2 linked regions of the Homo sapiens genome follow. The protein of the gene in region 1 purifies or fractionates together with the protein of each later gene. This does not show direct contact. Each region holds a gene or a part of one and is shown on either strand. Other genes may lie near its edges.

Region 1 (3,653 bases):
ACAAAGTGAGAGCTCGTCTCTACAAAAAGTTAAAAAAATTAGCTAGGCGTGGTGGCATGCACCTGTAATCATAGCTATTCTGGAAGCTGAGGTGGGAGGATCTCTTGAGCCCAGGAGTTTGAGGTTACAGTGAGCTATGATCACATCACTGCATTCCAGCTTCAGTGACAGAATGAGATCTGGTCCTCCTTCCCCCTGACCCCCCAAATTATATATTCTACTTTGGTAGCAAGACCATTATCACTTGGAATCACCGCCCGCCAAATTTTTAAAATTAGACCCTTTAATATTAAAGAAAATTAAAAATATTCAGGATAATTTGTTCTTAAACCAAAAGCATAACAATTCTTAAAATATTGGAAATTAATACTTCCTTCCTGAATTATTTTTCAGTTGCTCAAAATGTGGTAAGCATGAGTAAACATCATGTACAGATAAAAGATGTAAATCTGGAGGTTACGGCCAAGCCAGTTCCATTAAATTCAGGAGTCAGATTCCAGGTAACAGGATGATTAAAATTTTTTGGATTTCTGTTCATCACAAGCACTTCTCTCATCCATATTTCTGAACATCAAATCATTTTCCAGGTTTATGTAGAAGTTTCTAAAATGAAAATCAATGTTACTGAAATTCCTGACACATTGCGTGAAGATCAAATGAGAGACAAACTAGAGCTGAGCTTTTCAAAGTCCCGAAATGGAGGCGGAGAGGTGGACCGCGTGGACTATGACAGACAGTCCGGGAGTGCAGTCATCACGTTTGTGGAGATTGGAGGTACTCAAGGGTGTAGAAGGTTAACAGACACTCTGCCATTTCAGTCATGTTCTGTTGTTTCTGAAAGTATTCCTATTCTACTTCTTTTATTTGGAATGTATTAGCATGATAATTGGGGATTTTAAAAAACCTTATAAAATAGTAGAGTGTAGGAAATTATTTCCAGGGACAGTACTAGGAAAGATAATATTGCTACAAATAGGCAGGGTGCAGTGGCTCACCCCTGTAATCCCAGCACTTTGGGAGGCGGAGGCAGGCGGATCACTTGAGGTCAGGAGTTCAAGACCAGCCTGTCCAACATGGCGAAACCCCATCTCTACTAAAAATACAAAAATTAGCCAGGCATGGTGGCAAGTGCCTGTAATCCCAGCTACTTGGGAGGCTGAGGCAGGGAGAATCACTTGAACCCAGGAGGTGGAGGTTGCAGTGAGCTGAGATCACCAGGCATAGTGGTGCGTGCCTGTGGTCCCAGCTACTCAGGAGGCTGAGGTGGGAGGATTACTTGAGGCCAGGAGGTTGAGGCTGCAGTGACCTGTGATTGCACCACTGCACTACAGCCTGGGAGACAGAGTGAGACCCTGTCTCAAAAAACAAAATTAAAAAAAAAAATTGATGGATTAGATTTTTTCATGACAAAGTAATACATGCTTTTTTAAGGAAGGTGAAATAATACAGAAGAGCAAACATTTAGTAAAAATGAGACATTTCGGCCGGGCCCGGTGGCTCATGCCTGTAATCCCAGCACTTTGGGAGGCCGAGGCAGGCAGATCATGAGGTGAGGAGTTCGAGACCAGCCTGACTAACATGGTGAAACCCCGTCTCTACTAAAAATACAAAAAAATTAGCCAGGTGTGGTGGCGCATGCCTGTAATCCCAGCTACTCGGGGGGCTCAGGCAGGAGAATAGCTTGAACCCAGGAGGTGGAGGTTGCAGTGAGCCGAGACTACGCCACTGCACTCCAGCTTGGGCGACAGAGTGAGACTCCGTCTCAAAAAAAAACAAAAAGAGACATTTCCTCAAACTTCCCTTTCTCCTACTATTTAGTTAGTTATGGTTATTTGGGTGTCTTTCCAGGCTTTTCTCTGGGCACATTAAAACATGTCAATATCCTTTTTTTTTTTTTTTTTTTTTTTTTTTTTGTGAGACAGAGTCTTGCTCTGTCGCCCGGGCTGGAGTGCAGTGGCACTATCTCAGCTCACTGCAACCTCCGCTTCCCGGGTTCAAGCAATTCTCCCACCTCAGCCTCCCGAGTAGCTGGAATTACAAGTGCATGCCACCATGCCTGACTAATTTTTGTATTTTTGGTAGAGACGGGGTTTCACCATGTTGGTCAGGTTGGTCTCGAACTCCTGACTTCAAGTGATACGCCCGCCTTGGCTTCCCAAAGTGCTGGGATTACAAGCATGAGCCGCCGCTCCTGGCCCAATATGCATTTTTGACCTGAGCTTTTGGATGATGTTTAGGACATCCTGGTGGGATGTGTCAGGGAGAGCTATAAAAGGAAGGGGTCTTGAGGGCTACAGTAATATGTTGTCTTGGAAATGAACAATAACTTGGTGGAAACTTCCATAGTCAAGCATCCAGATTTTAATTTGCCAAATTCATATATTCATTTAGCCTGTTTGGTGTTAGTTTGTCTATATCTTGGATTTTAAAAAATCTGGCCAGGCGCAGTGGCTCATGCCTATAATCCCAGCACTTTGGGAGGCGGAGGCGGGTGGATCACTTGAGGCCAGGAGTTCAAGACCAGCCTGGCCAACATCGCGAGACCCCTTCTCCACCAAAAATACAAAAATTAGCGGATGTGCTGGCTCACGCCTATAGTCCCAACTACTTGGGAGGCTGAGGCAGGAGAATTGCTTGAACCTGGGGGGTGGAGGTTGCAGGGAGCTGAGATTGCATCACTGCACTCCAGCCTGGGTGACAGAGTGAGACTCGGTCTCAAAAAAACCGAAATAAAATAAATAAAATAAAATAAACTAGAATGCAATTTATAACTCTACTGTGAGAGATAATACTAGCTTTGGAACCTGTGTCCTTGGGCCATCTGGGGATGTTCTCCTAGAGGTTACATCTAGCCAGATGGGAAAAATACTTCTGCAGGTTATAGGTTATCCAGCAGGTAACTACTGAAGGATGTGAAGGTATTCTGGAGATAAATATGCCAGATACTTCATAAACTGTGTCTTACTGACTCATCACAATAATCTACAGGGTAGGTACTGTAATTATGCTTATTTTACAGAAAAAGAAACTGAGGCTTTAAGAAGTCAAGCAACATATCCAAGGCCACATAGCTCATAAGTAGCAGAGCTAGGACTGAAGCTGGTCTATTTGACTCAGGACCTGTACTCTTTTTTTTTTTTTTAACTGTGATAAAATATATATAACATAAAATTTACCATTTTAACAATTTTTAAATGTACAATTCAAGGGTACTAAGTACATTCACAATGTTGTACAACCATCACCACTATCCATCTCTAGAACTTTTTAATCACCCCAAACTGAAACTCTGTACCCATTTAACAATAATTCTCCATTACCTCTTCTTCCAGCCCCTGGTAACCATCATTCTACTTTCTGTCTCTATGAATTTGCCTATTCTAGGTACCTCATTCAAGTGGAATTATACAATATTTGTCCTTTTCCTGTCTGTCTTATTTTGGTTAGCATAATGTTATCAGGGTCCATCCATGTTGTGGTATGTATCAGAATTTCATCCTTTTTAAAGGCTGAATAATATTCTCTGTGTGTGTGTGTATTTTATATATCCATTTTGTTGATCTGTTCATCTGTTGGTGGATGCTTGGGTTGCTTCCACCTTTTGCCTATTGTGAAAAATACTGCTCTGAGCATTAACGAGCAAGTATCTGTCC
Region 2 (3,653 bases), on another chromosome or scaffold:
CGGGTGGCCGAGGCAGGAAAATCGCTTGAACCTAGGAGACAGAGGCTGCAGTGAGCTGATTTCGTGCCCCTGCACTCCAGCCTGGGCGACAAAGCAAGACTCCATCTCAAAACAACAGCAACAACAACAACAAACCAAAAAACAACAACAACAACAAAATCGTAATTCAAACCATGGTAAGCTTGGGACCATCTGTAGAACTGAGAAGGCAGTAAGGGGGTGAGCCTGATTCAGAGCTGAGCAGCTGGAAAACAGTAGGCTGTATATATTAATCTCATTATGTTCTAATAATTTCCAGGTGAAGCATCAACCAATTTTCATAAAAGAAAGATTGAAGCTTTTTGAAATACTGAAGAAAGACCATCAGCTCTTACTTGCCATTTATGGAAAAAAGGGGGATACAAGCAACATCATCACAGTAAGAGTGGCTGATGGGCAAACAGTGCAAGGGGAAGTCTGGAAAACAACGCCTTACCAAGTGGCTGCTGAAATTAGGTAAACCGCAGTGTGGAAAAGATATTCAATCTTAAGTAATTATACTGAAGCCTGGTGAAAATGTTTTCTTAGGGACCGCTAATATATTACTCCATTCTCACGATACTAAAAGGACATGTCTGAGACTGGGTTATTTATAAAGGAAGAAGATTTAATTGACTCACAGTTCCGCAGGGCTGGGGAGGCTTCAGGAAACTTACAGTCGTGGCAGAAGGGGAAGCAAGCATGTCCTTCTTCACATGGCAGCGGCAAGGAGAAGTGCAGAGCAAAGTGGGGGGAAAACCCCTTATAAAACCATCAGATCTCATGAGAATGCACTCACTATCAAAGAACAGCATGGAGGTAACAGCCCCTGTGATTCAGTTACCTCCCACTGGGTCCCTTCCACAAAACGTGGGGATTATGGGAACTAGAGTTCAAGATGAGGTTTGGATGGGCACACAGCCAAACCATATCAGCTAATTTTTTTTTTATTCAGTTGAATAAATTAAATGTATTTAATTTTTTTCCTCTGGCTTCTCCAAGGGCCATGTAAATAAGTAGTTGAATATCAGAACACAATCATTTCCTGTTCTAATAAAAATATATAGGAGAGAAAAAAATCTGTAATTCTTGATAGGCCATTTTACACTGACTTTATTCGTCAATCAAGTAATTTCCATGAGTTTTTACAGGTCTTTTAAGTATAGATTGAAGATAAATGTTTTAGAGCTATTATCAGTCTTGGAAAAGTGCTTTGACTTTTCTAGAAATTAGATACATTAGTGAACTTATATTGTTTTGACTCATGTTAATTCTTAGCATTAAATACAATTGTATAGAAGCTATTGTATAAATACAATTATATAGCTTCTATACAATTGTATTAATGCCATGTAAATAAATGTTCATCATTTAAAAAGCAAACTGTTTCAACAACTGAAATTCTCAGATTTTCTTTGAAAACTATGGCTAAGATTGTATTTCTGATTCATCCTATTATATTGTTAAATGCTCTCCCAGCCTGTTTTCATGTTTTCCAGGAGGAATGATGTGCTAGGAGAAAACAGGTTTTGAGGCAAGAATAAGTTTGTTTTCTCATGGAGAGTCAGGTTGCATGTTAAATGTGTTGGGTCAGTATTTCTCAAAGTGTAGTCCCCAGACCAGCAGCATGGGCATCACCTGGAAACTTGTTAGAAAAGCAAATTTGGGGATCCCACCTCAAACCCCCTGAATTGATCAGCCATCAGTGTTTTTATGAGCTCTCCAGGGGCTTCTAATGCAAGCTAACCGTCTAGAAGTGACCAGTCAAGCCTAGTGGACATCTCTGGTCCATGCAGTTATTTATGGACCCAGCTTCCTCCCATCTTGTTGATCTGCTGTCTCCTAGGTAGGGTTTCTTTGTGTCTAGCGGTGGAAGCTGGGTCCTTGCATGGGCCTGCCTGCAGTCAGGAGGAAGAGAAGCTGCAGAGCAATGATGCTTTGAGGCCAAGACCCCATAGTGGCTGGCTTCAGTTTCCACTTACATCCTCTTAGCTCACATTTAGTCACATGGCTATGCCTAGCTGTAAGAGAGAATTGGAATATAGCTCCCTTGGCCGCCCAGCCACATGTCCAGCTAAAGCATTCATACCATGGAAGAGAGGAATGGTTTATGGAACAACAGAGAGTCTGCCACAGTCTGCCCCTCTGACATCCAGATATCTGTGGGTACTCTTCTTTCAACATCTGACACACTCACTCCCCAAGTGAGACAACTCTTATGTTCCATAGCTCAAAGCCTGGGATTTCTGAGTGATGTACAGAACACCCCCCATCAGGCTGACCACTTGTATTCTAGCAACAAATAAACTGATAGACAAGTCTGCTCACACCACACGTGCATACAGTACACAGAAGACAATCACAAAGTGTGTGCTTGGAAAAAAGAAGGAGGAGAAATATAGCAGGGAGTGGTATAGAGAAGTCATCAGATTCTGCTTGAAGCCACCTTGAGGCCCCACAGCCTGGCAGCAGTTAGTGCTTGTGTCAGCCCACCTGTTCATCCTTTGTTCTCTGGAAGCAGCTGTCTTATCCCATGATCCTCCATGGGCCCTGATTTTGCACTTTGGGAAGTTCGGAGTTGTCCATTACCCTCACTTGTCACATCTGAAGTGCACGAGTTTGTCCTCTTGGGATCTGTGCAGTTTCCACAGCTCAGTTCTGTGGTGCACATTTGGGGCCTGAGGGTTCCCTTAAGGATCACATAGTCACAGATATTTGTGAGCTGAGCTTATGATTTGTTTGGCAATACAATTACCATGATCAGTTAGCCATAGTAGGCTCTGGTCTGTTTGCAGCTAATCCGTTCCACATGAAAGTAATCTCACTTAAAGAATCTTCTAGATAGAGACTTCTCACCCTGTTGTTGCATGGCTTTTTTATTCGGCTCACTCCTGTCTCCTTGTTTAATGGACTGAGATCATATGAAGCAGAGGCTTGTGGGAGGGAGGCACTCTTGCTCTCTAATCCTTGCAGTTCCACTGGCCTCTATTGTCTGGATTTATGTGTGGCCTTTGAGAAGGGCTATCAATGCCTGTCCCTCCTGCGGTTTGGGAAAGAAGATTGTCTTTCCCATCTTGCATAGCTCCACGTTTCTGAACTTTTAGTCAGTTGAATTACAGGACACGGGCAGAGGGAGCCTCCCTATCCCTTCCACCTCTGCTGGCAAACTAGATTGTTTTCATCTGAGATAACTCATTCTTGTAGCTTCTTGCTGAAAGCAACAAGAGTTACCCAGGGTATACCAACACTGTCCCCCCACCTCCACCCCGCCCCTTTTCTCGATCTTGGCTCACCACAACCTCCGCCCTCCGGTTTCAAGCGATTCTCCTGCCTCAGCCTCCCGAGTAGTTGAGATTACAGGCATGCGCCACCACACCCAGCTAATTTTGTATTTTTAGTAAGGATGGCGTTTCTCCATGTTAGTCAGGCTGGTCTCGAACTTCCAACCTCAGGTGGTCTGCCCACAGCAGCCTCCCAAAATGTTGGGATTACAGATGTAAGCCACCACGCCCAGCCCTACTCTCCCCTTTTATACCTGCTTTCTTGTGTGCTACAAGCACTGTGACACATGGTTTGCCTGCAAGTTTTATCAAATATTTTGATATACTATCACAAAGGTTATTGGCTCTCCATAT

Evidence for each region. The genes of interacting proteins can lie anywhere in the genome.
Region 2: the proteins of NMI (region 1) and TARS3 purify together in Homo sapiens (affinity purification with mass spectrometry; 3 studies listed by BioGRID and IntAct, with this or other methods). This does not show direct contact.

What each region holds. Positions count from the first base shown.
Region 1 is NC_000002.12:151,272,605-151,276,257, reverse strand, and holds part of NMI (N-myc-interactor), read left to right. Parts: intron 1-393; coding exon 394-500; intron 501-587; coding exon 588-774; intron 775-3,653. UniProt on the Homo sapiens protein: Acts as a signaling pathway regulator involved in innate immune system response.
Region 2 is NC_000015.10:101,717,968-101,721,620, reverse strand, and holds part of TARS3 (threonine--tRNA ligase 2, cytoplasmic), read left to right. Parts: intron 1-298; coding exon 299-495; intron 496-3,653. UniProt on the Homo sapiens protein: Catalyzes the attachment of threonine to tRNA(Thr) in a two-step reaction: threonine is first activated by ATP to form Thr-AMP and then transferred to the acceptor end of tRNA(Thr).